Linked DNA regions of Homo sapiens. The protein of the gene in region 3 interacts with the protein of the main gene of each other region in a biochemical or structural test. Each region holds a gene or a part of one and is shown on either strand. Other genes may lie near its edges. The genes, in order: MMP24, CLDN10, PDZD2, SLC5A12, CYTIP, ARHGEF16 and MKNK1.

The links.
Region 1: the proteins of PDZD2 (region 3) and MMP24 interact in a test that uses a peptide from one of them, tested with the Homo sapiens proteins (one large-scale study listed by IntAct).
Region 2: the proteins of PDZD2 (region 3) and CLDN10 interact in a test that uses a peptide from one of them, tested with the Homo sapiens proteins (one large-scale study listed by IntAct).
Region 4: the proteins of PDZD2 (region 3) and SLC5A12 interact in a test that uses a peptide from one of them, tested with the Homo sapiens proteins (one large-scale study listed by IntAct).
Region 5: the proteins of PDZD2 (region 3) and CYTIP interact in a test that uses a peptide from one of them, tested with the Homo sapiens proteins (one large-scale study listed by IntAct).
Region 6: the proteins of PDZD2 (region 3) and ARHGEF16 interact in a test that uses a peptide from one of them, tested with the Homo sapiens proteins (one large-scale study listed by IntAct).
Region 7: the proteins of PDZD2 (region 3) and MKNK1 interact in a test that uses a peptide from one of them, tested with the Homo sapiens proteins (one large-scale study listed by IntAct).

Annotation. Positions count from the first base shown.
Region 1 is NC_000020.11:35,274,594-35,277,498, forward strand, and holds the end of MMP24 (matrix metalloproteinase-24 preproprotein), read left to right. Parts: coding exon 1-16; 3' UTR 17-2,405; downstream 2,406-2,905. UniProt on the Homo sapiens protein: Metalloprotease that mediates cleavage of N-cadherin (CDH2) and acts as a regulator of neuro-immune interactions and neural stem cell quiescence.
Region 2 is NC_000013.11:95,559,220-95,562,719, reverse strand, and holds part of CLDN10 (claudin-10), read right to left. Parts: intron 2,589-3,500; coding exon 2,427-2,588; intron 2,339-2,426; coding exon 2,257-2,338; intron 1-2,256. UniProt on the Homo sapiens protein: Forms paracellular channels: polymerizes in tight junction strands with cation- and anion-selective channels through the strands, conveying epithelial permeability in a process known as paracellular tight junction permeability.
Region 3 is NC_000005.10:32,086,631-32,090,130, reverse strand, and holds part of PDZD2 (PDZ domain-containing protein 2), read right to left. Parts: intron 3,001-3,500; coding exon 1-3,000.
Region 4 is NC_000011.10:26,677,061-26,680,560, reverse strand, and holds part of SLC5A12 (sodium-coupled monocarboxylate transporter 2), read left to right. Parts: intron 1-1,745; coding exon 1,746-1,849; intron 1,850-3,500. UniProt on the Homo sapiens protein: Acts as an electroneutral and low-affinity sodium (Na(+))-dependent sodium-coupled solute transporter.
Region 5 is NC_000002.12:157,427,090-157,430,589, reverse strand, and holds part of CYTIP (cytohesin-interacting protein), read left to right. Parts: coding exon 1-31; intron 32-3,169; coding exon 3,170-3,239; intron 3,240-3,500. UniProt on the Homo sapiens protein: By its binding to cytohesin-1 (CYTH1), it modifies activation of ARFs by CYTH1 and its precise function may be to sequester CYTH1 in the cytoplasm.
Region 6 is NC_000001.11:3,464,665-3,468,164, forward strand, and holds part of ARHGEF16 (rho guanine nucleotide exchange factor 16), read left to right. Parts: intron 1-1,483; coding exon 1,484-1,529; intron 1,530-2,137; exon of another isoform or gene 2,138-2,250; intron 2,251-2,503; coding exon 2,504-2,673; exon of another isoform or gene 2,674-2,686; intron 2,687-3,500. UniProt on the Homo sapiens protein: Guanyl-nucleotide exchange factor of the RHOG GTPase stimulating the exchange of RHOG-associated GDP for GTP. May play a role in chemotactic cell migration by mediating the activation of RAC1 by EPHA2.
Region 7 is NC_000001.11:46,559,269-46,562,768, forward strand, and holds part of MKNK1 (MAP kinase-interacting serine/threonine-protein kinase 1), read right to left. Parts: coding exon 3,381-3,500; intron 2,406-3,380; coding exon of another isoform or gene 2,375-2,405; coding exon 2,210-2,374; intron 1,010-2,209; coding exon 966-1,009; intron 544-965; exon of another isoform or gene 402-543; intron 1-401. UniProt on the Homo sapiens protein: May play a role in the response to environmental stress and cytokines. Appears to regulate translation by phosphorylating EIF4E, thus increasing the affinity of this protein for the 7-methylguanosine-containing mRNA cap.

The DNA.
Region 1 (2,905 bases), on a different chromosome or scaffold from region 3:
CCAGGAATGGGTGTGAGCAGCCCAGAGCCCTCTCTATCCACTTGGTCTGGCCAGCCAGGCCCTTCCTCACCAGGGTCTGAGGGGCAGCTCTGGCCAGTGCTCACCAGGGCCAGCAGGGCCCTAGGCTGGGGTCGTACAGCTGAAGTGGTGGGTGCATTGGCCTAGGCTGAGCGTGGGGCAGGGAATTATGGGGGCTGTGCCCCAGGGTGGGTGTCTGGCACCCAGCTGCCAGCCTTCTGTCCTGGGCAAACTACTCCCTACTTAAGGGAATAGGCCAGGCTCCATCCGGAGGCAGGGACCATGCCAGGAGGAGCCCCTGTGGTCACGGCATCCTGTGGTGTCCATGAGGTACCACAGCTCCACTCCTGGCTGGAACCCAGCACCCTCTGTGGGAAGCCAGCACTAGCTCTCATCCCCCATCCGGGAGATACCACCAGTCCTGGTCCCCTTTTGCCAACACCTGCTGGTCAGATGTCCCCCTACCCCCACCCCACTGTCCTCCAAGGCTACAGGACCCCTGCTTCTGACACAGTGAGCAACAAGCCTGGGTTTCCCTGCTGGCAGACGGCAGATCCCTCAGGAAACCTGCTCCACTTGTCAGGGTCTCTTCGGAGACCCAGGATTTAGGGTCACATGCTGCAGGCAGGGCTGTGGCCCAGCTGGGTCTGACAAGGACCCAGCTGTCACATCGTGAATATTTAAATGTCCTGTCACTACTGTCCCATTTTGCAAAGGCTGCTTGAGGCTTTAGGTGAACTAGAGGTGACTGTCTTGGTGATGAGGCCAGCATAGCGGCCCTCCCCCAGGCGACAAGGACCAAGGTGCTGCTAAGGCCACTCTAGCGCCCAGACACCCCAGTAGCTGAGCTCTGCTCCTATGGCTACAGAGCTGGGGCAGAAGCTGACCCCATTTCTGGAGGAAGATCCGAGTTTGTGACCGTCCTCCACTCCCCTCTATTGTCACTGTCCCCAGCTTTGCTCCAGTCTGTCACTTGCAGCCTGGAGCTCAGCCTCACCAGTTAGGTGAGGCAGAGATGGCTGCAGGGCCAACACTGGCAGAGCCTGGGAGTCCTTCGGAAGGGGACCAGGGCGTCTGAAGTGCTCAGTGCCCCCACTACTCTGAGGCCGACTCCAGCTACTCTGAGGCCGACTCAATCTCTCGGCTGGAAGCAGTGTTTTCCCAGAGCTTGGCCCTTGCTGACCTCGCTCACTGGGCCCATCTTCCCACACTGCTCTTAGAAGGACACCCCTACCGGTAGCAGCCCCAAGCTGAGGGGGCTCCCTTTTTGACCTTCACTGGCCCGCCCTTCACTGTCTCCAGCAGGAGTTCCTAGGGCTTGGCCTGCCTTGCTCCACAGTACGGCGGAGGCAGCCCTGCTTGTCACTGAGGAGCCCTAGACAAGGCCAATGGGTTCATCAATGCCCACTGGCTCTCTGCCAAAGCCAAAAAGGTGTCAGGCAGTCTCCAGCGTGCTGGCCGGGTCTCGGATGCCACCCCTGCTCACTGAGCCTGCATGGGCCTTGCCCCCGACCCTGTGGTCTCTGGGATTGGGGTCGGCTTACCCTGTAGCACAGACAGGGACTCCTGCTGCCCTGGGAGCTGTCTCAAGCAAAATCTCTTGTCCCAGAGGTGCCCATGTGGGTCCGCTGTGTCCCCTGTCATCATCCTTGTTTTTTCTCATTTTGGCCAAGGGCAGGCTCCCTGGGACAGGCAGGGAACAACTGCGGAGATATTAGTGATTCATAGGTTTGTACAGTGTTTTATACTTTGCAAAGCACTTTATTAGCTCACACCTGTCCACTCACATGAAACTCGTGTTAGGCCCTGGGAGGCCGACGGTAACTCTCACCGTGCCCTCAGATGAAGCACAGAGAGGTTGTTACTTGCCCGGGCCATCCAGTGGGCTGGCTGGGTCTTGTGTCCCCATCTGTGGACCCCTCTAGGGTCTGAGATGAGATGAGAAGTGTCTCCTGTATCCACCTCTTCCTGGCCTCCCTTCCCCCACTTCCTGGTCCCTGTCCACTCCTCAGGTTGGTGCTCTCACTTCTTGAAAGCTCTAGGCACCCCCGCCTCCCGCCAGGCTCCCCATTGGCTCCTGGCAGGCCAGCTGAGAATGAACAGGAGATGGAGGCAGGCAGCCCAGGCTGCAGAGGTGAGGGATGTGGGGCCAGGCCCAGAGGGCTCAGCCTAGAGGCTTCCAATCTCAGATTCTCCTGCCTGTGGTCATCTGTTTGTCCATCACCCCAGGACAGGGCAGACAGAGGGGCAAAGCACTGGGGGCCCCAGAGCCTAGCTTCCCCTCAGCCTGGGGGACATCACAGCATTTCAGTGTCAGTCACATTTTAAACTGATCAGCCTTTGTATAATGTTTTTTAAATCATTTCTAAATAAAACAGAAATACAGAGTGTGTCATTTCCCTGGGATGAGGGAACAAAGATCAGGTTCCAAGAGTAACCTTAGGACGCTCTGGGAAGAGAACCGGGTCCTTTGGGGTGTCTGGGAGCTGCCCACCCATCTCCTCTGCCAGACCGGCGGTCAGATAGCCTCCCTCTACAACAGGCTGGCCCTGGGGGCCCAGGGTTATTGGGGTTCCAGGAACACAGCCTGATGATGCCTCCTTACGATCCAGGATGGAGAGCAGCCCCCCCAGGAGTATGGGGAGGGTCACTGTGGCACGGGCTTCTCCATGACCTGGGACATGACCTGGGACACATAGTCAAGAGCACGGTTATCAGCAATACAGATATTAATAAAAGGCAGACGAAGTCAGGAGGTCAGCAACTTTGCGGGCTTACCAGGAGGCCTGTCCTGCCTCTGGAAGCCAGCGACAGAGAGGGATGCCCCCGACCCAGCCAGCCGGAGAAAGGGATGGGGTGGTCACGAAGGTCTGAGCTGGGTCTGGGT
Region 2 (3,500 bases), on a different chromosome or scaffold from region 3:
TAAAATAAACCATGAGAAGTACAGGTTTGCTGCATATTTATGATATCAAACCCTAAAATAAAAATGTATCATTTAAATACAATATTTCTTTTAAATATCATTAAAATATTTCTAAGCTTCAGAAATACAGCCTTGGTTTTTATTTCAATGTTTCCTGCCATGTACATCTGTGCAAATCTCATTTGAAAGATAAGTAGGAGAAAATTAATAAATTAGGACATGTTTTTGTATTATAGGCAGGGGATAAAAAAGTTATATTGAGGTCTAAAACCCATTTAATAAAATTTGTTTTTCTTTCCCATTTAATAACATTTCTGAATAAAAACTATTTTTAAATGTATAGAAAAGGCTGGGCATGGTGGCTTATGCCTGTAATCCCAGTGCTTTGGGAGGCTGAGGGAGGAGGATCATTGAAGATCAGGAGCTGGAGACAACTCTGGGCAACATAGCAAGACCTGTCTCCGTTAAAAAATGTAAAAATTATCCGGGGCCGGGCGCAGTGGCTCACACCTGTAATCCCAGCACTTCGGGAGGCTGAGGCGGGTGGATCACCTGAGGTCAGGAGTTCGAGACCAGCCTGGCCAAAATGGTGAAGCCCTGTCCCTACTAAAAATACAAAAAAATTAGCTGGGCATGGTGGTGCGTGCCTGTAATCCCAGCTACTAAGGAGGCTGAGGCAAGAGAATCACTTGACCCTGGGAGATGGAGGTTGCAGTGAGTCGAGATCGCACCACTGCACTCCAGCTTGGGCAACAAGAGCGAAAACTCCATCTCAAAAAAAAAAAAAAAATTATCTGGTTGTGGTGGCACATATATGTCCCAGCTACTCGGGGGGCTGAGGTGGGAGGATCACTTGAGTGCAGAAGCGCAAGGCTGCAGTCAACTAAGATCACACCACCACACTCCAGCCTGAGTGACAGAAAGAGGCCCTAACTCTTAAAAAAAAAAAAAAAAAGGACGAAAGAAACCTCTTGATGAACAGTACATGTAGCATATTGTCACAAAAATTACAAAATAGTGGAATATTAGAAATCATGCTTTTTAAGAGCCAGTGTTCTGAAGTTCAACTGCCTGGTTTGAATCCCAGTTCAATCAGCCTACTAGTTTGGTCCAAGTTCCCTTGAACACATCACTTGGCCTCTTTCCTCAATTTAAAAAAAGAGTACCAAGAGGACCTACTTTATAAGGTTGTTTGTAAGAATAAAATAAAATAACACAATAAAATAATATTTGCAGTGCTCTGCTTGGCTCCTGGTGGGGACTCAACATGCGCTAGCTATTATTTTCATTTTATTTCATGATATAAGCATTTACTGTTTATGCGTAAGGTACACTTAAGCCAGAACTAGAAAATCAATTTCCTGAAGATTCCTAAAACCACCAGAAAAAAAGTAAAGCCCAGCTGACCAGCTATTTCAGTAATATACTTCTTAAAAATTCTATAAAATTTGACCTGAAGTCTAAAATAAAATTACCAGCCTCATTGATAGCAATACACACACACGTACGTGAGGCTTCCTAAAGAGGGATGTAGATACATTCTTAGGTAAGACAAAATATTTAATATATTAATTCTGATTTGGTATCCCTGGGGTTTTCCCAATCCAAAGAAATAAGCCTAGGGAAACTATAAAAAGCAACAGCCCATAGTTTAAAAACAACACCAACAAGCAAACTGATCTGTTAATTCCAAAGCATTCATCTGCAAGACTGACCAGCCACATTTGGGTAAAGGTGCCGTGCTCCTACAGCATTTTTCAAAAACCTTGCATCGTATACAGTTTCTTTATAAAGGTTTATTAGGAGGAGCTTGTTAAGACAGTAGTTAATACAGCAAATTTAAAAGACCCAGAAACTAGCATCTGGCAAATATCATTTTGAGTGGGCAACAATCAAGGCAAGGTTTTAATTTTCTATTCGCACACCGCATCATTCTTTCCTCTCCGTCTGACACCTTTCACGTTTCCTCTACTTGACCTCAGTTTCATGATGTACAGCAAACGATGAAGTTTATAGTTCTAAATTTGATGCCTTGAACTGTTTCGAGACAAGACACTGCAACACTAGCAAACTAATTAAATGCATATTTTGCGTATGTGGCATATGACACATTTAATCTTGAATGATGTCATCAGTTACCATTTATCAGTATGTCTTACTTTCAAAAGTCATATAGGAAATTCATGTCTCTTGGTTGAGAATATTAATTTATATACACTTCCTGTGAGCTGGAAACAGACTGAGAAGAGTACTTACTTTTGCTCAACAAAGAGAGGATCAAAGAATTCCGTTGTGATTTTGTTTGCATATAGGGAACATCCAGTCATTGAGCACAGCCCTAACAAATATTAGAGGGAAAGCACTATGGTTAGTGTGATTTCATTAACATCATCAAGTACCTTGTTTGGAAGAAAGTTACTATTTACCTGACAGTATGAATACAATCCCAGCCAAACAAGCAATTTTAGCTTTGGCTTTATCGGAGCCTCCGACTTTGGTACACTTCATTCCAAAGAGCGCAAATATGGAACCAAAGAAGCCCAGGCTGACAGCAGCGATCATAAGTCCTCTACATGCCTGTATATAACCTGCAATTAGAGTAGGTCATTTACGTTACATAAAGCATGTGGCTGTCCAGGGAGAAATCCTCATTTTACGTTGTCATTCTGGATGTTTGTTTTCCAAAAAGATAACTGTGATGGTGAAAACATGTGGCAAGACAAGCAAGAAAGGAAAGCAAGTTAATCTACAGGGAGTGCCTATTCTAGGTCACACACTGTGAAGTGCGGTTTATGGGGAATCCTCAGGATAGATCTGAGTGTTATTTCCATATTCACCAGTGAGGAAACTGAGGCACACAAAGGTTATGTGACTTACCAGAGGTGAGTTAGAAAGTGGCAGACATGGATTCCATCCCAAATCAGACTACGAATTCCATATAGTGAAATTCCACAGTGAAAGGTGCCTTTCACTGTGAAAAAACATCATCTGCCACCATCACAACTCTGTAGCTCCTCCGCTCATTGGACTTTAAAAGGGTGTTTTAATGGTTTTGACATTATCAAATGATAAGATTTATAACTGGGTGGCAGAAAGAGATCCAAAGGGTCAAACCTTCCAATATTAGTGGACGCTTATTAATAGCAGACTAACTGGAATATCATCATGAACCATGGGGGGTCTAAGGGAATACTTTAGTGAAGTACTATTGTTTTCAGGGTGTATATAATAAAACTGGGTTTTAAAAAGCACTATTTTGTAGAAGAGTAATTTATAGTGATTAAGTCAACTGTTCTTTTATAAATGAATGCCTTTAAAGTACCCTAACGAGTATGTTCTGTCAGTTCGTTTGTTCATCCTTCCTGTGCTATTCATGTTCTTAGTCATGTATTTTTATTTGCACAGCCAGGGTACACGGTAAACTTCAGTGTGGCTTTTGTCCAGGTTTTTACATTAACAGGGTTTAAACTAATAAGCTTTTACCACATAAGCCATTTTCA
Region 3 (3,500 bases):
GGGCTGGCATGGAGTAGGTCCTGGTCGCTGGCCTTGGGGTGAAGTAGAGATGGTCCTCCCCCGAGGGGCCCCCTGGAATGCTGTTTCTGGGCACCCCTCGGGAGTCTGACATCAGGCTTGATTTTCCCTGGGAGTATTCTGCCTTTCTAATGGCTGTTTGAAGGGAGGAGGAGGAGGACGCCAGTTTTGCCATGCTGAATGATCGTGACATTTCCTGCTCTGCCTGGGAGGCATGAGATGGGAGTGAGGATGGATGACTTGTGGATGATTCTGCGACCTGGCGATAGAGCCTGATTTCACTCTTCTCCTGACAGTTGCCCTGGGCCAAGCACCCTCCCCGTCTGTCGCTTTCAGCTGGCTTGTTACCACATACAGTCTCTGACACTGCTTCAGCAGAAATCTCCACGATTTTCAGCTGGTTTGTTCTTTCGAGGCGATCGCTGGCCATTATGTTGCCTCCTTTTTCGCCAGTCGGCCTGGGTTGGGCTGTGTCTGCTGCCACATGGCTGGCCAGGCGCGGCTCACTCTGTCTGTTCCCTGCCACGGACATGCCGTTCCTAGACGCTGCCGGACTCACCGGCCCGGAGTCAGCACGGGGCGCCCTGCCCTCTGCTCTACACTTAGGAGATTTAGGGGTGGTTGGGCAACCTCTGTCGGGTTCAGAGAGGACAGCCATGTGGAACCTGCTCCACATGCCTTGCTCAGGAACAGGCTTGGGAGAGGTCAGGGGCGAGACAAATGTCCTGATGCTCGTGTCAGACACTGAGGGTTTCAGTGGCCCAGAGGTGGCAAGAGGTGGCTTGCTTTCCAGCACACACTGGGGGGACCTGGGGGCAGCTGTGGTGTTTCTGTCAGGGTCCTCGTGGTCGGCTACATGGAGCCGCTGTGACACTGCCTTAGAAAGTGTTTTGTGGGAGGTCTGGGGTGAGATCAAGGGTTTCCTGTGGTCCGTCCCCCCAGCCTTCACAGCATTCGCAGCAGGGGCCTCAGAGTTGACTTTGGCCTTGCCCTTGAGGCTGAGCCTCTTCAGCTTCGGACCACACTTTGCCTTCTGACCATTAGTCAGAAGCATTTCTGCCGGACTCTTCTTAGACAGGTCCTTATTTTCCAGGTTTGTTTTCGGCTGAGGAGGGCTATGAGGCACAGTAACGCCCTTTTTTTGGCTTGAACTCACCATCTGAATCTTGGAGTCGGGACTTCTGGCAGGCATTAGAGGTTGTTCCTTCTCGGTTTTGCTCCTCAAATGTGTGCCTTGGTTATGTTTATTTATTTCTTTAAACCAGGCCATGATGGGCCTCCTAGCGATCATTTTTGGTTTCTGTAGCAAGTCATCCAGGTCTTGACTTTCAGAGATGTGGAGGTTTTCCAAAACAGATTCTCCATTCTTAGGGACATCCACACTGAAGGAGGACAGACTGGCAGCTGCATTAATGCTTGTTTCGTATTGATTCAGGGTTTCGTCATCTAGCAGGTCATGTTCCAAGCCATTTACCATGTTGGGGGAGCTGAGAATGATGGGCGGACTGTGAAAATGCCTGGCTACTTTAGACAGCGGACTGTTTTCCATGGCTGAGCTAGCGCTGGTGACTTCTGTGGTTTCTTCTGCACACGAGGGCCTGTGGTTCTGTGAAGTGCTTATGTCCGCATGAGTTTCATGCTCCTGAGAGCTCATCTCCAAGAGTGATGATGGCTGGGAAGAGTCTGGGCCTGAAGTGTATGAGCCTGGCAAGCAGGCGGCCTTCTCACGGGGACTGGCCACCGACTCTCTCGGAGTGCTGTATTTTAATGACAGAACTTTGGCTGAGGCAGGACAGATGGCAGCCTGGGTGGGAAGATGAGCAGGACTCGAGGGTGGATTGGGGCAGCCACGTGTGGAACAAATCTCAATCTGTTCCTCTTCTGACTCCGAAGGATCTTCCTTGTGCAAAGACACACGGGAACGAGGAGGGGACCAGCCGTCCCTGGCAGAAGCTCGTGGGGCTTCAGTGAGTGACTCAGGGTCAGAAGAAGAATCCTCAGCATCGCCATACATGGATGACAGAGACGGCTCCGTGCTGTCACCCAGGCCTGATAGGGAGGTGCTGTCTTCATGAAAACTGCTAAAATTTCTAGAGTAGTTGCTCAGAAAGTTTTTGTTCACAGTAAAATGTTTGTCGGGATTAATTGAATCTAAAACCGAAGGCTGGGAGGCCCATTGTGGGTAGGCGGGGGCACCAGCAGCCCAGGCCCTCCTCGGGGAGGAGGTCTGGCCCCCCGGGACTGGTTCGGCACGGCAGGAGCTCCCACCTCCAGCCCCGGCTGGTGGGTGGCCCTGAGCACTGCCCTCCTGAGAGCCACTGTCCCCCGTCTGGGAAGACGGAGACCTTGCTGCAGAAGCATCCAGCTCCTTGATGAAGCTGTCAATGTCCGTCACAGGGCTCTCTCTACTCCCCCCTGGGCAGCAGTGCCCCGAGACATGGCCACATGCTTCTTTGGTGTTGTCAGTGGATGGCAGCATGGAGAGGCTGGCCTGCGGTGCCCTTGAGGACACAGAATCTGCTCCCTCCAGCAGGGAAGGCTCCTGGGAGCTTTCAGGTGCATGGATTCCTGTCATTTCCAGAGCCTTACTGTGGTTACCTGGAGCTCCCTGTCTCTGCTCCTGGGATGTGAGGGGGTCTCCTGGCAGGACAGCACCAGCTGGTGTCATTCCCTCTGCTCCAGGTCCCGCTCCCCTGAGGGCAGCCACCCTCCTGGTATTGTGGGGTGTGCTGGTTTCCGATGCTGATCGAGTCTTGCTGTAGTCAGGGGGAGCCGCTGCTTTCTCCCCCGGGGAGGGGCTGCCCTCATGGGGGAGCCTGACTGGAGACCTGGCCTTGCACTTGGTGACCCTGGGCGATGCAGGCTGGCTGGGATTCTCTGGCCGACTGACTTGCCCTGTGTCTACAGAGGTCTTGCTGGGGTCAGGATGAGCGGCCCCCTTCTTCCCTGGGGAAGAGATGAGGTCTGAGGAGCTGTCCAGTTCTACGTGGGGAACGTAAACAGAAGGTACATACACAGGAGAGGTTGTAGGGGAGATAAAAGGGATAATATAAGAAAGCAGCCCCTCAATTATTAAAAACTAGAAAATTATAAACAACCTCAAATATTTTTTTCTTTTTCAGAAAGCTGGGCGTGGTGGCGCATGCTTGTAATCCCAGCACTTTGGGAGGCGGAGGCGGGTGGATCACCTGAGGTCAGGAGTTCGAGACCAGCCTGGCCAACATGGTGAAACCCCATCTCTACTAAAAAAAAAAAAAAAAAAAAAAAAATTAGCTGGGCATGGGGGTGGGCACCTGTAATCCCAGCTACTTGGGAGGCTGAGGCAGGAGAATTGCTTGAACCTGGGAGGTGGAGGTTGCAGTGAGCCGAGAATGTGCCATTGCACTGCAGCCTGGGCAAAAAGAGCGAAACTCCGTCTCAGAAAACAACAACAACAACAACAACAACAAAACGGCGTTCTGTGGCCTAAATGGAGGCCCTTC
Region 4 (3,500 bases), on a different chromosome or scaffold from region 3:
CTATGGTGTAGAGAGACGATTGTGGACTTTGAAATCTGAAATATTTGGGTTTGGATTTTGGTTTTATAATTTATTCCCTCTGTATCTTTGGACAAGTTAGTAAGTTGTAACTTCTTGAATTCTCAGAGCCCTTGATGGAAAAATGAGGAAATATATATATATATATGAATATATATACATATATATATGAATATATATACATATATATATGAATATATATACATATATATATGAATATATATACATATATATATATGAATATATATACATATATATAAAGTAGCACTACACGTGACTTTAATAAATGTTCACTCTCACATTCTAATTGTATGTAAGAGCAAGTCTAGAAAATATAGGATTTGTGTTATTTGTGTATCCTCAAAAGTACTTCATTTTTAGTAGCCCTTTTCTGATTATCATCAATATCTCCCCATACTGGCTCATTCCCTCTGAGTCCAGGCTTCTCAAACTGGCCAGATAATGTGGCAAATTGCATTCATGAAAGTCTCTCTCGGTCCGGCATATCTTCTCCTCTCCATTGTCCTTGTCAATCTTGAGGCTAGTCTTGTCTTTACAAAGTCCAGAAAAGTGAAATTATCTTATTTGTATTTTTTATTTCCTCCATTTTTCTATCTCTTTTCCTTTCTAATACAACCCATTCTATCCAAGCATCACTAGATTTATTTTTTCTGAAGCACCTTTCTGAACTCATTACTACCACATGGAGATGACTTAAATGATTCATGTGCTTATGGAATAAAACACAACCTTTTTATCCTGGAGCTAAATACCTGCCAAACTTAAAACTTTCCTGTGGTTTTAATGTTATTAACTATTGTTTTCCTTCTACTCTGAATTCTGTTTCTTCTCGTCTACCTATGCTTATCCCACTCTTTCCTACATTTGGGTCCTTAAGCTATTCCCTTTACATGAATATATTTTAGTGTTCATTTCCACTCTCCTAAAATCTGTTTATCTTTCAAGAGCCATACTAGTGTCTCCTATTCCTCCATAAAGTTCATTTTGACTCAGGTTCCAAATGGGCACTCCATTATTTTGCTTCCATTTGTCTTTGAGTTTCATTTTCTTTCCATAAATTTTATATCGAAGAATTTCAACCTATTCATGGTTCCCCATAAACCATGTTGATTCTTCCCTCCTGCCTATACTTACTGTATTCTCTTCTTAGAATGCTAATTCCTGGCCCTGACTACCCTCTTTGCTTGATTAACTACTAATTATTCTTTCAAAATGAGCTGAGGTATCATCTCACGCATTGGTCTGAATTTGATACTACTCTGAAGGCTGCCATAGTATTTTATACCTTTTCTACTGAGGCAAAACCAACCCATTTTATGATTGTCTATTAGCTCCTGTATGTAGACTTTGTGACTTTCTCATCTTTATATCACTAATGCTTGTCACAATTACTAGCACTAAATCTGGGCTTAATAAAAGTCTGAAGAATAAATAATACAAATGAAATTGTATTATTTGTATTAAGACACAATCCTCATTGTAATACTTATGATTCAGTATCAACATCGTTATATTTGTAATTCAGGAATGAATTGAATTGAGTGGAATACAAAGCACATCTTCTCTAAATATAATTTTTTAAATGACAAAAAGTTATGATTTAGGCTTTTGAGATGCCAGGCCCTAAAATGAATCCTGAGCAGTCCTCTACATCACTGTGGGTCTTTAGGATGCATGGAATTGGTGACATGTGCTGTTCTCCACAGACCTGGAATAGCTGATACCTGGTACTCGATCTCCTACCTTTACTACAGTGCAGTGGGCTGCTTAGGATGCATTGTTGCTGGAGTAATCATCAGCCTCATAACAGGTTGGTTATAATTCCTCCCTTTGGGACTAAAGAAGATATGGGCTCATGCATGCATTGGTGGACTGGCTGTCTGTCTTATTGCTTTGAATTCACGTTTCCCACAAAAACCCTTCTTCCCACAGAGATGTCTACTCTCTCAACGCTGACATACAAAGGCACCCTTCATTATTATATACCTGACTATTAATATATAAAACATATATTCACGGGAGGCTGAGGCAGGAGAATCGCTTGAACCCAGAAGGTGGAGGTTGCAGTGAGCTGAGATGGTGCCATTGCACTCCAGCTTGGGCAACAGAGCAAGGCTCCGTCTCAAAAAACCAAAAAAAACCCCAACCAAACAAAAAAACATATATTCAAACATTTCCCATATATTATTTAAAAAAAGATGCTTTGACACATGCCCCCCAGAGGCCTGAGTATGAAAAACCCTCTGTAATATAACAATCAGTAAATAAGGTTAAATATTCAGAGTGGTTCTTTTCCCTTCATCCCAGTAAGAGACAAGATTTTTGTCATCACCATCTTACTATCTCATGAAGTCAGCCTTTGCTAACTTACTAGAAAAGCAAAACACTGTTGTTTTTGCCTATGTTGTCCTTTGGAGGCTGCTTCTCTAGGGTCGTGGAGTTCTCTGCAGTGAGCAGCTTCACTGTAAGCCATTTTTAGCAAAGTGTCTACCATCCATACTTGCCCTTTTGATGTATTAATGTCCTTTTTGTTTCAAAGCCCATGAGGGGTTGGTAGTGGTGAGAGTGTGGGAGATAATGGGGTGGAATAAGTTCACTGTACTCTTGTCCCTCCACCTCCTTGGAGTATGTATTTTAGCTAAAAAATTTTAAGGTATTCTATTTTTCCATGACTATTATATACCAATGAACAATGGCCAACATTCTGACTCAACACAAAACCTGAATGGCAACATTTCTGGTGACTGTGTACTAGAGATGTTATATTGAAGCTCCAATGCCCTATTGTTCTGTGCATGATGTCACTAGCCATTCACTGAAATTTAAGAAGATCTTGGCTATGATAAAGAATAGACTATAAATCTTGTAACCCCAGTCTTTCACATAATAACAACTCTCTCAATGTCTTTATGTAAATGGTTTCAGGCAAAAGATTGTTTATTCATTTTGTTTAGATTTTGCCTTAGTACCCTGACATCTGTAACTCCTTCCTTGATGCTAGTGGGATATACCTAGACATTTCAGTTTAGTGATCGGTCACCACTAAGAAGACAACCAAGATTTCAGCTGCCTGAACATTTCCTTCTAAATCAGGAAATGTGTACACATGAAATCCAGTAGTTTGCCAGTCCATATTTTCCATGTGTGCACCAGAATTAGCATGCTCTTATGTTGATACAGCAGCACTTATATTAAATTTGATTGAAAATTCTTACACATTTTCAGCATGAATAACTCTTCCAGTATTAATCCCTTTGTTTTCTTTTTCTCCAAATAAGCCAGGTCTTAGTCAAATGCCCTTCAGGCCAAAAGCGAACACTCTAACAAAGTCTAATTATGCCTTCAAACATTTGGAAAAATTTTTGAACATGACCACCAGATGTTCTTGCCTCCTGGTCCCTGTCTTCCAAATGAGGCCTTAGGGCTAGCCTGATAACCTCAGGTCTGCTCACTAAGAGGCT
Region 5 (3,500 bases), on a different chromosome or scaffold from region 3:
ACCTGATCAGATCGTCCGGAAACCTGCTAACGTAACTATCTGTCTAGTTCCCGTGGGGCTTCAAAATGTTATGTTTTCTCATAAAGCCTGATGAGTGAATAAATAGGCCTTTTGTTCAGCATTACAAGACGGAGTGAGGCAGTGCACCGGAGCTTTAGAGTGGGGTACAAACATTATCAGTTCCTTTTGTTTCTCAAGATTCCTCACACTTGAACATACTGTCAACATCTGAAGTCAGAGGACATCAATAGCCCAAACGTCTGTGTGGGAAGGATGGCCTTTACAAATGTATTTTTTTAATGTCAAATTCAATTAAACTGGCACACATTCTCTTTAAACTGGGAAGAACTGATCCAATTTTCATGGTTGATATAATCCTGTAGCTAAAACAAATCAAAGGTCAGAAGGGCTGAGTTTTTCCTCTTATGTGACAAGCCACCTGTTTTTCTCTTCTAGTGTTCCATTTGGAAGGAAGAATAGTCTGTTCAACCCTCCCCACCCTGAAACACACATACTCACACCACATGTTCCAAATGTTCCAAACTTCTTTTTTTTTTTTTTTTTTTTGAGACGGAGTCTCGCTCTGTCGCCCTGGATGGAGTGCAGTGGCGCGATCTTGGCTCACTGCAAGCTCTGCCTCCCAGGTTCACGCCATTCTCCTGCCTCAGCCTCCCTAGTAGCTGGGACTACAGGCGCCCACCACCATGCCCGGCTAATTTTTTGTATTTTTAGTAGAGACGGGGTTTCATCGTGTTAGCCAGGATGGTCTCAATCTCCTGACCTCATGATCCACCCGCCTCCGCCTCCCAAAGTGCTGGGATTACAGGCATGAGCCACCGCCCCTGGCCCCAAACTTCTTAATAGAACACTGGCTTTCCCAATTAGAGGTTTGACTGATTTTTCTACCATAACAATACTAGCACCTAATAAAATCTTATTAGGATAGTTAAATGATGAAATTCGCTCATTCATTAAAATCATATTTATTGAGCAAATACTATGTTTCCAGCTCTGTGATAGGCTCAGGAGAGACGAAGATAAAGACTCTCTTAGTACGTTAATAGTTATGGAAGGAAATGGCTCAGAAAAGCCTGAAATTTAAGTAATGTGTATATTTCAGTTATTGATAACTACTATGAGAAAAGTGCAAAACAGCAATGGCCTGTCATGCTAGGTAAGAAGGCTGCTAGTTTGGCTTAGATGTGTAAAGTGGTCTTTTCTAGGGAGGCGATATTTGAGTTGAGATCTAAATGAAGAGAAGGATGGTCAAATGAACTCCTCGTAAGAGCACTTCAGGCAAAGAGAGAGGTCTCTGAGTGCTCACAATGGGCTTGGCATGTACAAGGGAAAGAGAAAAAGACAGTATAATTGGTATTTGATGGATTAGAGAGGGTATAATAAGAAATGAAGCCAGAGAGTTGGCCTGGGGGCAGACCATGGATCTCTTTGGACATGCCAACAAGTTTGGGTTTTATTCTGATTGAGGTGGGTCATATATTGTGTCATTTATTCTTCACAGCCACCCATGAGGTTAATTTTATTCCTATTTATAGATGAAGTGCCTGAAGCTTAGAGGGGGCTTAGTTAAGGTCACATAACTGGTAAGTGATAGGGCTGGGGTTTGACCACCTGCTCTGGATGCCAGGATCTGTCCTTTTCAGCTACAGCTGCTCCTTGGAAGCTGCCAGTAGAAAATCTGCTGGATGCTTTTCAGTGATTCTGGTGTAAAACTTCAAAGGATGCTTTGGGTGTTTGTGAGAGCAGATTTGAAAGATGGTGGTGGTAACAAATTGGGTCCAACTCTATAGGTCCTGTGAGTTCAGGGTAAAGGATGAGGTGCTTTTGCTCTAGAGAACCCTGGATCCAAAGGAGAGGAACCGTGCAGAGTCTGAGGGGAACTGCTGGTAGTTAGAGTCAGAAAGCATGTTCCACATGGGTGAAGAGGGTAGACCACAGGTAAATAGGGGTTGTAGATGGAGGTAACTGTTGGAAATCCGGGAAAATGGGAGACAGTCTGTACAAATACTGAGGAAAATGGCCAAATCAATGGTTGCAGTTTTGCCCATACACATCTATTGCTTCAGCAGGTCAAACTGACATTCAATCCCAATGAAACAGATTCATATGGATTCCCACTATTTCTCAGAGAGTCAAGATCACCTTAAGGAGAAAACAGACAGTATATAGCTTGCTACCACCTGATTATTCCTGGCATGATGCTATTAGAAGTAGAAGACTGATCTCCACATTTAATGCTTTTACCATGCCTTGAAAAATTCCTTGCATCTTTATAGAGAGGTACAGCTTAATTACAAGAAGGAACTTGAACCAACACTTTAAAAATTGGTGTGTGATTCACAAATGAAATTTTTAAATCATATTCAGATTGATGGTTTAGTAGTCAAAATAAAAGCCTTTAACTTGAACACACAGAACAAATCAAATCACTCAGAATAGAACAAGTATTTTATTTTTAGAAATGTGTGTGGTGTGGGAAGAACAGAACACTGGTAAGTTGATAATTCTAGGATTAGAGTTTGTAAACTGAATGTTTTGAGATAAAGAATCATATGAAGGTTATTATGTCATAGTAGTTGTACTTCTGTTTCTTCTAGTACCAAAATTATAAGGAGATTTACAGAGGTAAAGGCTCCTAGAATCCTATGGAGGAAAGGATTTCTCCCTCTTTCAAGAAGTAGCATGTTAATTCCATGGTTGTGAAAGCCCCTAGAGCCTATTATTTCTGTTGTTGTGCCCCTTGTGTTCAGCATGGTTTCTAGAATCTGGTACATAGTAGATGCCCAATAAATATTTACCAAATGAGTGAGGTCATTCAGCCCATCCCCACAAGAACAGATTCTAGTAGAGAGCAGCCATCATTGTCACATAGTGACTTCTATAAAATAAGCTATAGTTTACAAATTAACTAGGATCCTTTCTTTTAGCCACCTTCTCAAGGGGAGTTTTCCCCCATTTTCTTTCTCTGTTATCAGAAGATTTGGCTTTGGTCCAGCTACTCGAAGTGCCATGAGAACTGTAACATTTGTATTTCGTTTTTAGTATAGTATGTGCTCAAAGTGTAGTACTCTGTAGTATGGTACTTATTTAAACGAATCACTCATGTTACTCACTCCCCACCTTCCTCTTCTTTTTTTTTTCCTTAAAACAGGATAGAGACTCTTAATGGAACAATGATTCTGAAAAGAACGGAGCTTGAAGCAAAGCTGCAGGTTTTAAAGGTAATTTAATTTAATGCAGTGAGGCACATTTTTCATCCTTGAATGTGTGAGTGGTAAAATAAAGATCTATTTGAGGAACTGAGATAGCCCTTGAAAAAGAAATGTCGTGGTGAATCTAAACTGCTGAATTATCAAGAGCCGCACAATTACCTTTGGAGGAATATCAAATTCTGCAAACCAGTGTAAATCACTTTCTTCCTTCCTCCTTCTGTGTGTCTATGAGGCTCAGAAAGGCAACAGGAAGGCATGCCACTTGAAGAA
Region 6 (3,500 bases), on a different chromosome or scaffold from region 3:
GGACGAGGGCGGGGGCAGGTGCTGTGTGACCCAGATGAGTTCCTGAACCTTCCTGAGCCTTGGCTTCCCCATGTGGAAGCAAAGATCACAGCCGCCCTCTGGGCATCCTCTGGGCAGTGTCCACGGAAGGTGTGTGCCAGAGCGTCTTCTTCACTGGTTGCCGTCCCAGCTGCCTCCTCAGGCCCAGCTCCTGCCCAGACTGGGAGTGGCAGTGCCAGCCTCAGGAGACGCCAAGACCACCTGTCAGAATGTCCCATGGGCGTCCACTGCAGGCCGATGGTGGCTGAGGTGGGGTCCCCCATGTCCCCAGCACCAGCCACTGTCCTCGGTCACAGCTCTCTCTTGTGCCTACCTGAGACGCCCAGGACTCAGAAATGCCTCAGCACCTCTGCCGCAGGCCCCTGCACCCCAGCAGCTGGAAGGGCCCCAGCACTCTCTACACCCACCAGGCCCAGGCCCATGGGGCTCCGTTCATTCATTCACTGTTTATTTCATGCAGTCAGCAGACACTTCTGGGCACCTGCCACATGCTTGGTGCTGGGGTTCCAAAGTGAGCCCACGGGCATGGGCCTGGTTCTCAGAGGGCCTCCAGCGCAGGGAGAATGCCGAGGGCTGGGCTGAGGGCAGCTCGGGGGTGCTGGGAGCACAGAGGAGGGGGCTCCCCATGGCCTCGGGTCAGGGTAGGGTCCCGGAGGAAGGAGGGTTAGCGCAGAGGCAGACAGGAGGAGAGGACGGAGTCGGGGTGGGGGAGGCAACAGCTCCAGCCAGACCTGGAGGCCGAAGGGGGGCTGGGGGAGTCCTTGAGGTGGGGTGCGGGGCACGGGGCTGAGGGTGCCAGGCCAGGTACAGCTGGGAGCACCACACACTCCCAACCAGTAAGGGGAGTTTACAGGCCCCAACTCGTTCCGAGAAATCAGCCCCTTTCCTTCCGGGAACCAGCATACCTGTGGCGTCAGGAAAGTGTGGTGTCCCAGCCGAGGAGGGTGGGCTCCGAGTCGGGCACCTGAGCGTGGGGGCTTCCCAGGAGCCCAGCCCTCCCGTCACTTCTGCCATCCCGGCCTCCTGCTGGGGCCCCCAGACCCATGCTTGGGGCTGGACACTGGCCAATCCTTGCTCGTCTGTCCCACCAGGTCCTAGTCCCCAGGGGCCTGTGTCCTGCCCCACTGTCCCTTCACAGCCCTCTCCCAACCTCACCTGCCCTGCCACGGGCCTGCTCGAAACTCTTCTGAGCGTCCCCTCACGATGAGTTCAACCCTTCCTCCTCCTCCAAGCAGCCCTCAGTCACGTGTCCTGCCTGCTCTGAGCCCTCCTCCCACCTCTCTTGGCCTCTGCTTGGCGGCCGTGAGGCCCTGTGGAGCTGACATCTATTGGGCACAGCTTCGCATGTGGAGCCGAGAGGTCTCTGGGGTCCCAGGGCAGAATCGCCGTGGGCAACACCTGCCCCGGCTGACAGCTGCGGTTTCTGTGTCTCTCTTTTGTGCAGAAGACGCTGGGGAGGAAACGTGGGCACAAGGGTTCCTTCAAGGACGGTGAGTGTGGCTTCGGGAGGCACCGCGGGCTGGGCTCCAGTTGAAACTGGTCTCACTGGGGCACCCTGGGGTTCGGGTGGGCCTCAGTTTGGTGTCTCGGGGTCACCAAAGCTGCTTGACAGGGTCCTTCCAGAGGCTGAGGTCCCAGTGGCTGGTCTGTTCATGTAGCCCTGATGAGTCTAGAAAGGTCTAGAAAGTTCCCTTGGACTCTATTCTGTGTGTTCTGAAGGGCAGGGTACAGACAGAGCCCCCAGTCTTGCCCTGAACACCCCATGTGTGTGCTGGGCCCAGCCTACAGTGGCCGTGTTGGGGGACCAAGGCCAGATCAGAGGGCACCGGCCCCACACCGCGGGCTCTGCCCGGACTCTTCGAGGCTGAAGGGGAGCCATGTGTTGGGGCCTCCAGCATGGGTGGCGGTGGTGCACACTCAGCCTGCTCGGGGGAGATGAGAACATCCCACAGGGAGGTTGACATAGGGAGGTGCCTGCTACCTGGGTCCAAATGCCCGGGGGTGTAAAGAGATTAGAGGCAATGAAGCCCGGGGAGGGCTAAGGCCTCGAGTGCCCAGCTCCAGGCCTGAGGCTCCAAGACACAATGGCCCCTTCCAGCCCCCAGAAGCTTTGTGGACAGGCATGGGCCCAGGAGGGGGTACCCAGGTCTCCTCTACGGAAATCCCTGGGAAGTGTCCCCAGGAGGCAGCAGCGATGCCCCACGTCTCAGGGTAAGGCTGGTTGGGGGCTGCTGTGAGGGTTTGGAGGCACCCTGAGCCGGGACCAGCCCATTTCAGGTGGGACTTGTGGCATAGGAGAGGTCTTGGGACTGGTGCCCAGCCTGGGGCAGTCCCCTCCCAAAGCCTCCCTCTCCCACACAGCCGTGAGAGCCTGTGGGCCTAGAGGACTCAGCTGGCGGGTTGCAGGGAGGCGCAGCCTTTTGCAATCCCCCAGGGCCACAGGTTACCCTCCTTCTCTCTCTAGACCCCCAGCTCTACCAGGAGATCCAGGAGCGGGGCCTGAACACCAGCCAGGAGTCTGATGACGACATCCTCGATGAGTCCTCCAGCCCCGAGGGAACCCAGAAGGTGGACGCCACCATTGTGGTCAAGAGCTACCGGCCCGCCCAGGTCACCTGGAGCCAGCTCCCAGAGGTAGCGCCGGAGGGTGGGTGAGGCTGCCCCACAGAGGCAGGGAGAAGCCACAGTCCCCCTGCTGTTCCTTCCCCAAGCCCAGGCGGCTGGTCCCCAGCAGCAGCCCAGTCCTCCCAGGGAGGGTGGGCAGCCTTCCCAGAAGCCCCTCGGCTGTGGGTGGCAGACCTGGGGGTCTCCCTCCTGTGCCCTCAGAGTCACCCTGCCCATGCAGGGCCCTGCCGTCGTGCGTGCGAGGGCCAGCCCTGCTCAGACTACCCTTCAGGGAGCTGCGGGCGCCAGGAGTCCCTTCCCAGGGCCCCCGCCCCAGGAGAGGGCTGAATGATCTGCGTAGGGAGACAGCTGGGATGGGAGGGGCCGGGACTTGGAGCTGGGGCCAGGGCCAAGACACTCCTTCACTTTCCATATCTGAAATTGGGGGCCCGTCCCTGCCCTGCAGGGGTCTCAGTGGAGAGCGTGGCCCGGCATTGGTCCCCATGCTTGGGGGAGATGGCTGCTCCTACCCCAGGTGGACCGGCATGTGACCCGCACCCTGAGGCCCAAGGGAGGGGACCATGTGGCCGTGGGCGTGGCGGGCAGCGGGGAGGGCGGGCCCCCACCTGTGGTACAATGGGGCTCCTTGTTCGCCATTCAGAGGGGCTGGCACTGCAACCACCCACCACACACCATGGTGCTGCGTACCCTGGGACCCCGGCCAGGGCAGGCCCAGCGTGGGGTGAGGGCAGGCAGCGGGCAGCCTCCCCACAGATAGAAAGGCCTAGAAGTGCAGTCTTACTCTCCTGCTGGGAGCTGGGGGCGTGTGGTCTCCCTCTGTCGGGGATGGAGTCCAG
Region 7 (3,500 bases), on a different chromosome or scaffold from region 3:
AGGTTTGGCATCTAAAGGCATCTGGAGGCTGCTCTAGAGAGTCAGGTAGGAACCCAAATTGGGCAATAGCAACTGGGTCACACGAATTGCGATTATGGAGGTGTATGACTTCCTTGTGTAGCTCCTAAAAGCTGGCCATGAGGCTGGTGCCAAAAAGGTTTCCCACACTGCTTAGCCCTGGCTCTTTGGGAACAGGGCAGTCCAGCTGTAAAAGGGCTCCAGAGTCAAACAGCCCAGGGCTGCTGTGTGGCCTTAAGCAAGTTAACTTGATTGCCACTCCTCACCTCTCTCATCTAGAACACCTCTCTTAAATTCATCGTGAAGATTATGGATATAATTATATCCAGCCCTTAGCACCACGTCTGACATGTGGTAAGGACTTACTATTTTTTTTGAGACAGATGCTTGCTCTGTTGCCCAGGATGGAGTGCAGTGGCGTGATCGCAGCTCACTGCAACCTCCGTCTGCTGGATTCAAGCGATTCTCCTGCCTCAGCCTCCCAAGTAGCTGGCATTACAGCACCTGCCACCATGCCTGGCCATGGTAAGGACTTAATCCTGGTGGCCACTATTATCACTGTCCGTCTAGTACCGTACGTGCCCCTCACTTCTGCTCCTTTCATTAAATACAAGGGCAGAGGGAAGCCTTGTGTGAATAACCCATGGGTAAGGTCTGTCTTTGGGCTGTAAGTTACAGTTCAATGGGCAAAACAGGTTTTTTTTCCTGCCAACAGTGCTAGGAGGGGCCTTAAGGTGCTGGAGGGCAGAGGATCCAATCTAGGTGAAGGAAGGGAAGGGTGGGAGATAGATCCAGAGTAGAGGAAAAGAGAGTGAGGAGGGGAAATGGGCAGGGAGCCCCTTTGGAGAAAGCTACCTGAGCCTAGAGATGGGCTCCCCCGGCCCCCACCCCCATGGTGGCTGAGAGCTTGAGGAAGAGCATGGCGTGGGGGTGGTCAGAGCATTTACCTCTGGAGGACTTGCGGCGTGGGGAGTCCCTTTTCTGGAGCTTGCTAGAATGGGAAGGACAGATGTGTAGGTAAAGCACTGCTCCCTCCTTTCAAGAACTGCCCCACCCAAGCCAGCAGTGGGTAGGTTACTATAGGCTGCTGGCGCAGCACAGGGAAATGGCTATGCTTGCTTGCAGGGTCAGGCCTTCCAAGCAGAGAGCAAGAAAGGTACAATCTGCAGCCGCAGCCCCCAACATAGCTGCTTCTGCATGGAGAGCCCCTCTTTCCCTTTGCCTGGCAAAGTCCTAATCATCCCCCAGGACCCAGCTCAAGGGTCACTTCCCCTGTGACGCACATTTCCCCTTCCCTGCCACCTTCCTGCCTCAGTCTCAGGCCCGGGATGGGGAGTGGGGTCTTGCTCCCTTTGTGCCCCTAGCACTTTTCAGAAGCCTTTATCATGCTGTAACTTATCCCCTTGTCTACTTCTCTCCACTAGAGCACAGAGACAGGGACTGGGTCTCACTTGTCCCTCTGGCATGTGGCAGGTGCTCACTTATGGGTCTGGGAATGAGCCAGTTAGACACTCAAACTGGGTCCCCATCTGCAACATAGGATGGCAATGCTTGCCTCCTTCCACTGGTAGGGTCACTGAGGCTGGCCAGAGCCTGGCACACCAAGGAGACCAGAAAGTCATGGGAGCATCTGGCAGACCCCTTGGAGGGCAGAGGTCAGGTATTGTGAGTAGCCAAGGAGGATTTTTAAAAATGTTTTCTAGTGAAGACATGAATTCTAAGCTTAGGGAAAAAATACGATCATTTGCCTTTCAGGCCAGCTGTACCCAGACTCCCAGACCATGAGGAGAACCTATGTGCCCCAACTCGGCCACACAACAATCAGCGCAGCACGGCCTTGCTCACTTCTGGGTGTCCTCAGCTAATGATGCTTCTATATAAGAGGAGGATGCTACAGACTTCAAATGACAATAGGATGCTTGCGGGGCTGGGTGCATGTACCAAATCCCCAGAGGACTCTGTTGGGGCTTAGTCTGTGGCCAAGTTTACAGCCAACTCTATGGCCTATAAGGGGCTCAGTCTGGGGTAACAGGAGGAGTCGATTCACTCTACACACTCAGGGATAGACGCTGTCCTCTTCAGCTGCACCAGCCACAAGGCTGGTGCTCAGCACTTGCTGGCATGACAGCTTCCTTGTGGCCATGCCACAGGCCTGAAGTGGTGGAAAACACCCCTCCCTGGAGTCACTCACCCCCTGCACCCATGGGTGCTGCAGAACTTGGGCGGCGCTAAGTCTCTGCTTTGCATCTCGCACCAGGAGCTTGGAGATGAGGTCTTTGGCTTCACTGGAGATGTGTGCCCAGTCCTTGTCAGGAAACTCATACTTGCCTTCCTGGATGCTTTCAAACAGCTTGTTCTAGGTACAAAAGATTCCTCCTGAGGCCACACTGCCAGGGATGGGCAGGATGTGCCTGTCATTGTTTTGATCAACCGGCTTCAATTGATCTCAGCTGTAGCTGCAGCTCATGGCTTGGGGATGCCACAGACTGGGGCCTCTTCCCAGACTCACCCCGCACTGTCCCCTAGATGATCAAACTATATAGAATGCCCTTGGCAGGCCAGGATGGCTATGCCCTTGGTGGGCTGGATGGGTGATGAGTGGAGATCACCCATAGAACAAAGCCCAAATTCCTTGGCTCTTCCTAGAGGACTCTCTGTGAACCTCTCAGGCCTCATCTCCCACTACCACCGACCTACTACTCCACTCTTCCTTCCTAGACACTCCAGCTATTTCATGTGCCCACATCTATGCCCGTGCTGTTCCTTCTACTTGTGATTCTTGTCCCTCTTCCGCAGGGCAGGATGCACCCTTTAAGAGTCAGTTCAGGGCTGGGCGCGGTGGCTCACGCCTGTAATCCCAGCACTTTGGGAGGCCGAGGCGGGAGGATCACAAGGTCAGGAGATTGAGACCATCCTGGCTAACACGATGAAACCCCGTCTCTACTGAAAATATAAAAAATTAGCCAGACGTGGTGGCCGGCGCCTGTAGTCCCAGCTACTTGGGAGGCCTAAGGCAGGAGAATCGCTTGAACCCAGGAGGCAGAGGTTGCAGTGAGTCGAGATCGTGCCATTGCACTCCAGCCTGGGCGACAGAGAGAGACTCCATCTCAAAAAAAAAAAAAAAAAAAAAAAAAGAGTCAGTTCAGGCATGATCTTCTAACAATCCTGCCCTGAACTCCCAGCTGGGCGGAGTGTCTGATTATCTCTATTTTACCTTGTGGCCACCGTGACAGGAGCGGGAGAGGGCACTATGAGCCCCCATCCCGATCAGGAACGCTCTCCCAGCCCAGTCCTGCTTGGCATCCCCCAACCACACTGACCCCTAGCAGGGTCTACGCAGTGCTCCCTGGGGCCGCACTCACCTGGCACACCCTGCAGACCTCGCCCCGGTCCCAGCCACAGTCGGCCCCGCAGTGACCCACGAAGGGTGGGTAGCCACTCAGCATGATGTAGAGGACCACGCCCAGGCTCCACAGGTCACA